Linked DNA regions of Homo sapiens. The protein of the gene in region 2 purifies or fractionates together with the protein of the main gene of each other region. This does not show direct contact. Each region holds a gene or a part of one and is shown on either strand. Other genes may lie near its edges. The genes, in order: WDTC1 and USP3.

Region 1 (3,913 bases), on a different chromosome or scaffold from region 2:
CTTCTGAAGAAGCAGTTCCTGTGGCCTGTCTGGCTCTCCAGACAAGAGGCAAGGACAGGTCTGTGGGTGCTGGGGGAGTATGCTTCCTATATTCTGGCACAGGGTGGGAAAAGGAGGGGCTTCTCTGACCTCCTTTCACTTCCTCTTTCCCCGCTTCCCCATCAAAAGCACTCCCACTTCCCTTCATCCATGCTTCAGGAGGTTGGAGAAGTGAGTGGGGACGATTTGGAGCTCCTGGTGTGCACAACCCCCCTTACCATCAGCTTCCAGAGAGCTGACTCTGCCAGACTGTCAGGCCCCATCCTCCAGCCCCAGGAGGTAGAGGCCACAGCTGCTGTGGATCAGTCAGCCAGGACAGGGGGGGGTCTGGCTGAGGGCTTGCTGCCTGCTGGTCAGACCCTGCGTCCCCAGCCTGACACTTCTGGCTTCCCCAGACCACAGAACTGTCCTTGAGGGCCCCCTGCCTTGGATGTGGCTTTGAAGGCCAGCCGGGGGTGATTTGAGAAGGTGGATGGGGGAAGAGAGAAGGAGGGCTTGGGGAGCCTGTGGTGGGCAAGATGCCAGGCCTTCTGCTGCAGAGCTGCGGGTGCCTGGGGTGAGCCAGTGTGCAGTTGCACTCTGTGCCCAGCAGAGGGCAGCCTGACACCAGCTTTTGCCACCCTCAAGACCTCAGGGTTTCCTGGCTTGCTCCTTAACCATACTCTGTCTCCTGATGGGGGAGGCCTGGGCTGAGCCAGGATTCTCTTCGTCCTCAAGTCCCCTTGCCATGAGATCTGTCAGTGGTGGGCTGGGGTGGCCACAGGAAGCAGAGGAGACTGAATGGGGACCCCTTGCTTGCCACGTGGCTCCACCTCCAAGCCGCTCTTCCCTGCCTTCCCAGGGATGGTGACCACTATGATGCCCTGAGGGACTGCCTCAAGGCCATCTCCCTAAACCCATGCCACCTGAAGGCACACTTTCGCCTGGCCCGCTGCCTCTTTGAGCTCAAGTATGTGGCTGAAGCCCTGGAGTGCCTGGACGACTTCAAAGGGAAATTTCCGGAGCAGGCCCACAGCAGCGCTTGTGATGCATTGGGCCGCGACATCACAGCTGCCCTCTTCTCTAAAAATGATGGTGGTGAGTGGGCACTGAGGAGGGGGTGCTGTTACTCTTTCTCTTTGAGATGCTGCATGACATTCTGGAGAGGTCATGGTTCTGGGATTGGAGAGGCCTGGGTTCAGATGTTGATTCAGAAACCATGCAACTTTGGGGCAGTTACTTGGTGTCTCTCTCAGAGTGTTTCCTGGTCTGAAAAGGAGGCATGCCAGCACCTCCCACTGAGCGTTTCTATTGAGGATCAGCATGTTTAAATGGCATGTTTAAAGCACCTGGGGGAGTGCCTGGTGCCCAGGATAGGAGGAAGCTGAGCTCAGTCAGGCTCCCGCTAGGCATTCACACCTGCTTAGACAGGGCCCTGGTGGTTCCACTTGGGCATCTGAGAGGCAGAAGCTGGTCATTGTGTTTGTTCCGAGTGTACAAGTGCAGCAGAGACAATAGCGCAGAGCAGTAGAAATGCCTCAGGCTTGGAATGTGGGGCCTCGGTTCCAAATGCAGCTCCACCACCTGACTGTGTGGCCTTGAAGAAAGCACAGCCTCTCTACCTACCTGCACAAAGAGCACGAAGCCCTGCCCAGCTCCCCTCAGTGTGCTGGAGAATGAACTGGGCCATCGGAGTGTGGTCTGTAAACGTGAACGGTGAGCTCATAGGAGGCAGACATGGATCTTCACCTCTCTCCTTTGCAGTTTACCAACCACGTGATAAATTAATTTGTTTAATGAATAGTTATCAGACACCTGCCATGTGCCAGGCACTGTGCTGGGTCCTGGGAATAGAGCTGTGACTAAGTCACGTGGAATTTCTGTGTTTATGGCATTTACAGTCTAGTGAAGGAACCAAGTGATAAAGGAGAAACAAAAAAGTATGACAAGTGCCATGGGGACCTGAATGGTGTGCATGCTGGGAGGGGGTGGGCTTGATGGCATTCTGGGGTTCTTCAGGAAGAAACATTTAAACTAAGATCTAAAGGATCCAAAGGAAGCATTAACTAGATACAAAATATAGCTGTGTGGCCTAGCGCGGTGGCTCACGCTTATAATCCCAGCACTTTGGGAGGCTGATGTGGGAAAATAGCTTGAGCCCAGGAGTTCAATATCAGCTAGGACAACATAGCAAGATCCCATCTCAACAAAAGAAAAATTAAAAAAAATTAGCCAGGGGTGGTGGCACACACCTGTAGTCCCAGCTCCTCGGGCAGCTGAGGCAGGAGGATCACTTGAGCCCAGGAGGTCAAGGCTACAGTGAGCCATGATCACACCACTGCACTCCAGCCTGGGTGACAGAGCAAAATCCTGTCTCAAACAACAACAACAACAAAATGTAGCTGTGGGAGATGCAGAGCTCCTGGCATATGAACCAGCATGCTCCAAGGCCCTGAAGCAGGTATGAGTGAGTCACTTTTAAGGAACTGAGAAAACTTGTGTGACTTTACCTGTCACTTAACTGATCAGTGACTCTCATTTGGGACCCTAATAACTTGTCTTCCAGAGGGTAAGGGCATGGTCCTTACTGCCCTAAGTGCCATGAATCTGTTTATAAAAGTCACCCAGGCTGGGCTCGGTGGCTCATGCCTGTAATCCCAGCACTTTGGGAGGCCAAGGCAGGTGGATCACCTGAGGTCAGGAGTTTGAGACCAGCCTGGCCAATGTGGCGAAACCCCGTCTCTACTAAAAATACAAAAATTAGCTGGGCGTGGTGGCACGTGCCTGGTAGTCCCAGTTACTCAGGAGGCTGAGGCAGGAGAATCGCTTGAACCTTGGAGGTGGAGGTTGCAGTGAGCCGAGATCACGCCACTGCACTCCAGCCTGCGTGACCATCTCAAAAAAAAAAAAAAAAGTCATCCATTCTCTCTTTGCTAGTGCCTCACTCTACCCTCCCCTGCCTCTTACCTCCACAGAAACAGACTTTGAGTCTCTGCATCTTTGGGGCTTTCAGGCCCTCATTTAGGGACCTGAACCAGGGCCCTCCTGGCATCAAAGGTCTCCTCTTGAACATCCTCAGGGGCTAGATCCAAAGATGCATCTTCCTCACAACCTTTCCCCAGTTTTCCAGGATAAGGGTGGAGGCAGGTAGCTCTATGTTGTCAGACTTTGGACTGAAAACAGAGCCATAGGTGGGGGAAAATAGGGAAGGAGAGAAAGGAACAAGGCGCTTACCTTTTCTGGATCTCTGCCCCCAGAGGAGAAGAAGGGACCTGGTGGCGGCGCCCCAGTCCGCCTCCGCAGCACGAGCCGCAAGGACTCCATCTCAGAGGATGAAATGGTGCTGCGGGAGCGAAGCTACGACTATCAGTTCCGCTACTGCGGCCACTGCAACACCACCACGGATATCAAAGAGGCCAATTTCTTTGGCAGGTCCGAGGCCCTGAAGAGGAGGGTGCAGCCCAGTTGGCAGCGGGAGGTTGAGTGGGGAGTGTTGGGGCATAATGGTTTCAGAGAAGAATCTCAAATCCCTGCTCTGCCTCTGTACCCTTGGGCAAATGGCTTCACCTTTGTCAGCCTCTAAAGTTTTTTAATCTATGAAATGACCAACCTGCCATGCCCATTTATGAGGCCATAACAAGGACTAATAAGATAACCCAAGTAGAGCCTCCAGCGCAGTGCCTGAACTACTCCTTCATCCCCCACCTCCTTCTCCCTCTGTCTGCATGTGCCAGAGCTTGGTTTCTTTATCTGCATTCAAGGAACCTCCCTCTGCTTGAGAGTATGAGGCAGCAGCCCTCCAAGGCTGGGAATCTTGGCACATCTGTTTTGTGCTCAAAACTGTGCCCTGTGTACTAAGGGACAAACTCTGTGTTTCAGACACCATCATCCCCAC
Region 2 (3,854 bases):
TGTCCAGAGCTATGCTGTTTGGCAGCAGTGACAGCAACCACGCAGCCTCTGACCAGCACAGCTGCCAAAAGAATGTGCCCTACGGAACAAGGATGCATAACAATTTGAGCTGCAGGCACCTGTGTCTTCAATTTTAGAAGACTGACAAGAACAGGCAAAGGATGACTGTGGAAACAGGGTTCTGTCTGCAGGAGGCATGGGGGCAGGGAAGTAGTCTATAGGAACTTACTGTAAACAGGATGTTTATTTAAAAGCACTTATTTGCCTGTTTTACCTTAAAAGATGACCAGTATCCTTTGCTCAGAGCCCCAAAACTAGTGCCTCAGGGTAGAGTCTAGCTCTAAAGGGGAAGGGAAGGGGCCTCATTTTTATAAGATCAATAGTCACAAGAGACTGAGGGTGATTTCACTGGGCAAGGCCGAGTGGGACCTCAGGCACCTGACTGCAGGCACTCATCTCCAGGCCATCACTTTGCCCATACAGGTCACTTCATCCTGGCCCAGGTACTGCAGCTCCAAATCGTGGGGATTCTGTAAGAGCTTGCTACCTGTTGACTGAGGAGGCCCACGAGTTGAGTAAGTACATCATCATTTATGTGGCTCTACTGAAAAAAGGTGTTCAGAAATAAGTCAAAAGGAAAGAGAACAGACTTTTAATGATATTTTTAAAAACAGTTCAGGTTGGTGAAGCAGAAAAGGGATGTGATTACAATTTAAATGAATCAGTCACTTGCACAATTAATCCTCTTGGCATCATACAAACTGGGTTTTAATGGCAAATGATGACATCATAGCATGACCAACACTCATGGAAGGCAGTCTAGAGTCCATCACGCTCACACCTGAGGGGGAAGGCACTGCACCCACTGACGAGACGCAGAGACCTTGGACTACAGATGACACCACATGCCCACTTCTCCTTCCTCACCTTCCTATGGCTACTCCTAGTCACCTGGGACCCAGGCCTTGGCTGCAGGAACAGACTTTTTCCATCGGCTTTTCCAGGGCCCAGGTGAAGAGGCCACTTCAGCAACAGAGGGTACAGGAGAGAGTTTAGGGGCTGGTGGAGATTAAAGTGGGATAAGTGTATCTAAATAGACTTATGTACACTAAACCAATGAAGGAGAGGTTTGGCTTTAAGAAATAAATATGCCCCCAACCCCAGAAACCAAGCTGCTGAGTAGGTTCCACAGGCGAGATACACATTTAACACTCACCCCGGGCCAGTACACTTGACTGGTTTAATTCTAGTACATCTGTCATCACTATACACTGAGTAGAATACAGTGGATAAGCAAAGGTTTCTCCACCATGGAGAGAGATTTGTGTTGCCACAAACTGTTTCTGTCACCCACCCGTGTGGGGACTTCTGAGAAAGTTTTCTTGTTCCAAGGAGCCATGTGACTCAGCGCGAGGCCCTGCCTCAGCAGAAGCTCTGAGCCAGAAGCCACATATATTGCTGGAGACAACATGGCACAAGGGAAAAGCCCTGAAGAGGACAAAAGATCAGCTTTCAAAATAGGTGTGGTAAGGCTGCACAGTTAAAAATGAAAACACAAATAAGCACATTTACATCACTGCTGTTCAAGTGCACAATTGAGATGGATCCAATCACTTTTCTAAAGAATCTTCACACCATTCAAACGTTTCTGTTCAAGTAAAACCAACCAATAAAAACAAATTCAGAGAGAAGACGTGTTCATCTCTTAAGCCAACAGCATCACCTGTCTGAAGACCACTCTGCCCGACAAAGTAGTCCAACGTGTTGCTGAAGTTCCATTTGGTATAAAAATACAGCTTTTTTTCACCATCAACTCTGCCCAGGCCTTTACTGTTTAACAGCTGCCCATTCAGAGAGACTGAAGATCGAAGTATCAATGTTAGAGGTTACAGCTGTCTACCTTCTAAGCAAAAGAGCCCGGATTCATAGGAGATACTTTGCAAGATCAAAGGAGACTCACATTTCAGGTTGAATTAGATGTGATGTTAATGTGTGATACATCAGATCAGGTGGAGCTGTCATTTTTGTAGATCAGAACTCATCAAATAGCAGGGTTTCATACAGTTTAACCTAATATAATTTAGCATTGTAAATTAATTTAAGCACACATCTCCCTATTATCTTTTAGGACTCAAAGTTGTAAGACCTAAACATGATGGCAAAGTTTTATTCTTTGGAGTGAAAATTTAGACCAGCATTGTCCTACGCCGTATGTGGGTGCTGAGCACTTGAAATGTGGCTAGTGTGACTGAAGGCACTGAGTTTCTAATTTAAATTTCAGTCACATGTGGCTAGGGGCCATTGTACTGGATGATATAAGTTTACACATAATTGTAATTTGCTCCTTGTCATGTTAAAGTGTTTAGCAGATGTGTTCTGGGAAGATGTGGGATTTATCCAGTTAATATTAAAATGGAAATGGAGCTACATCTGCTCCCACAACTTCAGATATCCAACCTGAGGGAAAGCCACCAGACTGTTTTTATATCATAAACTTAAAAAAAAAAAAAGGTCAAGATGTTTTTAATAGAACAGGCTGGGCGTGGTGGCTCATGCCTGTAATGCTAGCACCTTGGGAAGCCAAGGTGGGTGGATCACTTGAGCCCAGGAGTGCAAGACCAGCCTGGGCAACGTGGTGAAACCCCATCTCTAGTAAAAATATTAAAAATTAGCTGGGTGTGGTGGTGCCAGCTACTTCGAGGCTGAAGTGGGAGGATCGCTTGAGCCTGGGAGGTTGAGGCTACAGTGAGCTGTGATCATGCCACACTGCACTCCAGCCTGAGGGACAGAGTAAGACTCCATTAAAAAAAAAAAAAAAAAATTGCCAGAAAGTCTCGTTGGCTTAACACAAGATACATTTTGTCCCTTGTGGAGAATTGGTAGGCTATGTCTACCAACCCCCACCGCCCCCAACCAAAAAAAAGAAAAAAAAAAAACCACCACAGGACTGTCTTAGAACACTTGTAGAAACCACAACTGCTTTCTTTAAATGGGATTCTGGTTCCAAATTTGAATCTTTGAGTTAAATCTGTTTTTTAAAAACAAAACTGTCTGGGCGTGATGGCTCACGCCTGTAATCTCAGCACTTTGGGAGGCTGAGGCAGGCGGATCACCTGAGGTCAGGAGGGAGGTTGAGACCACCCTAGCCAACATGGTAAACCCCCGTCTTTACTAAAAATACAAAAAAAAAATTAGCCAGGTGTAGTGGTGGGCACCTGTAATCCCAGCTACTCAGGAGGTTGAGGCAGGAGAATTGCTACTCGGGAGGCCGAGGTTGCAATGAGCTGAGATCGTGCCACTGCACTCCAGCCTGGGCAACAGAGAGAGACTCTTGTCTCCAAAAACCCCCAAAAAACAAAACGAAAACTCCACTTACTTACTCCAACAGTATTTTCAACTTGTCCTATCAATCAGGATAGGCCAGAGAGAGGTGTTAAAACCCAGAGCAGCGAAGATTCTAAATTTCCTCCTGTGGAAGCACACCCCCCAGTGATAAACTGAAGTGCGGGTGATGATCCAAGTAAATCCCAGAGGGTCACACCTCAGACTCAGATGCCAAACACAAGCAGTAAGTAAGTCTATAATGGACATGTCGTGACTTCCAGTGGTACAACTAAGGGGGAATGAGATACTGATTCAAAAGGAGGCAGACGCCATGGCTTTACCTCACTGGTAACACCTATACCATGTCAGTGAGTCACAGCATTTTTTTTAAACATTACATGTATTTGGTCTTTACTCCCATCTTACCTCCCCGCAAACAAGTATGCCCCAAAACCAAAAAAACCAACAAAGAGAGTAATTCTTGTATTTGCAGGACAAGTACAACTGAACCAACAAATTTATTTAGTTAG

What was found.
Region 1: the proteins of USP3 (region 2) and WDTC1 purify together in Homo sapiens (affinity purification with mass spectrometry; 2 studies listed by BioGRID and IntAct, with this or other methods). This does not show direct contact.

What each region holds. Positions count from the first base shown.
Region 1 is NC_000001.11:27,300,346-27,304,258, forward strand, and holds part of WDTC1 (WD and tetratricopeptide repeats protein 1), read left to right. Parts: intron 1-880; coding exon 881-1,116; intron 1,117-1,593; coding exon of another isoform or gene 1,594-1,880; exon of another isoform or gene 1,881-2,154; intron 2,155-3,275; coding exon 3,276-3,450; intron 3,451-3,913. UniProt on the Homo sapiens protein: May function as a substrate receptor for CUL4-DDB1 E3 ubiquitin-protein ligase complex.
Region 2 is NC_000015.10:63,591,416-63,595,269, reverse strand, and holds the end of USP3 (ubiquitin carboxyl-terminal hydrolase 3), read right to left. Parts: 3' UTR 637-3,854; downstream 1-636. UniProt on the Homo sapiens protein: Deubiquitinase that plays a role in several cellular processes including transcriptional regulation, cell cycle progression or innate immunity.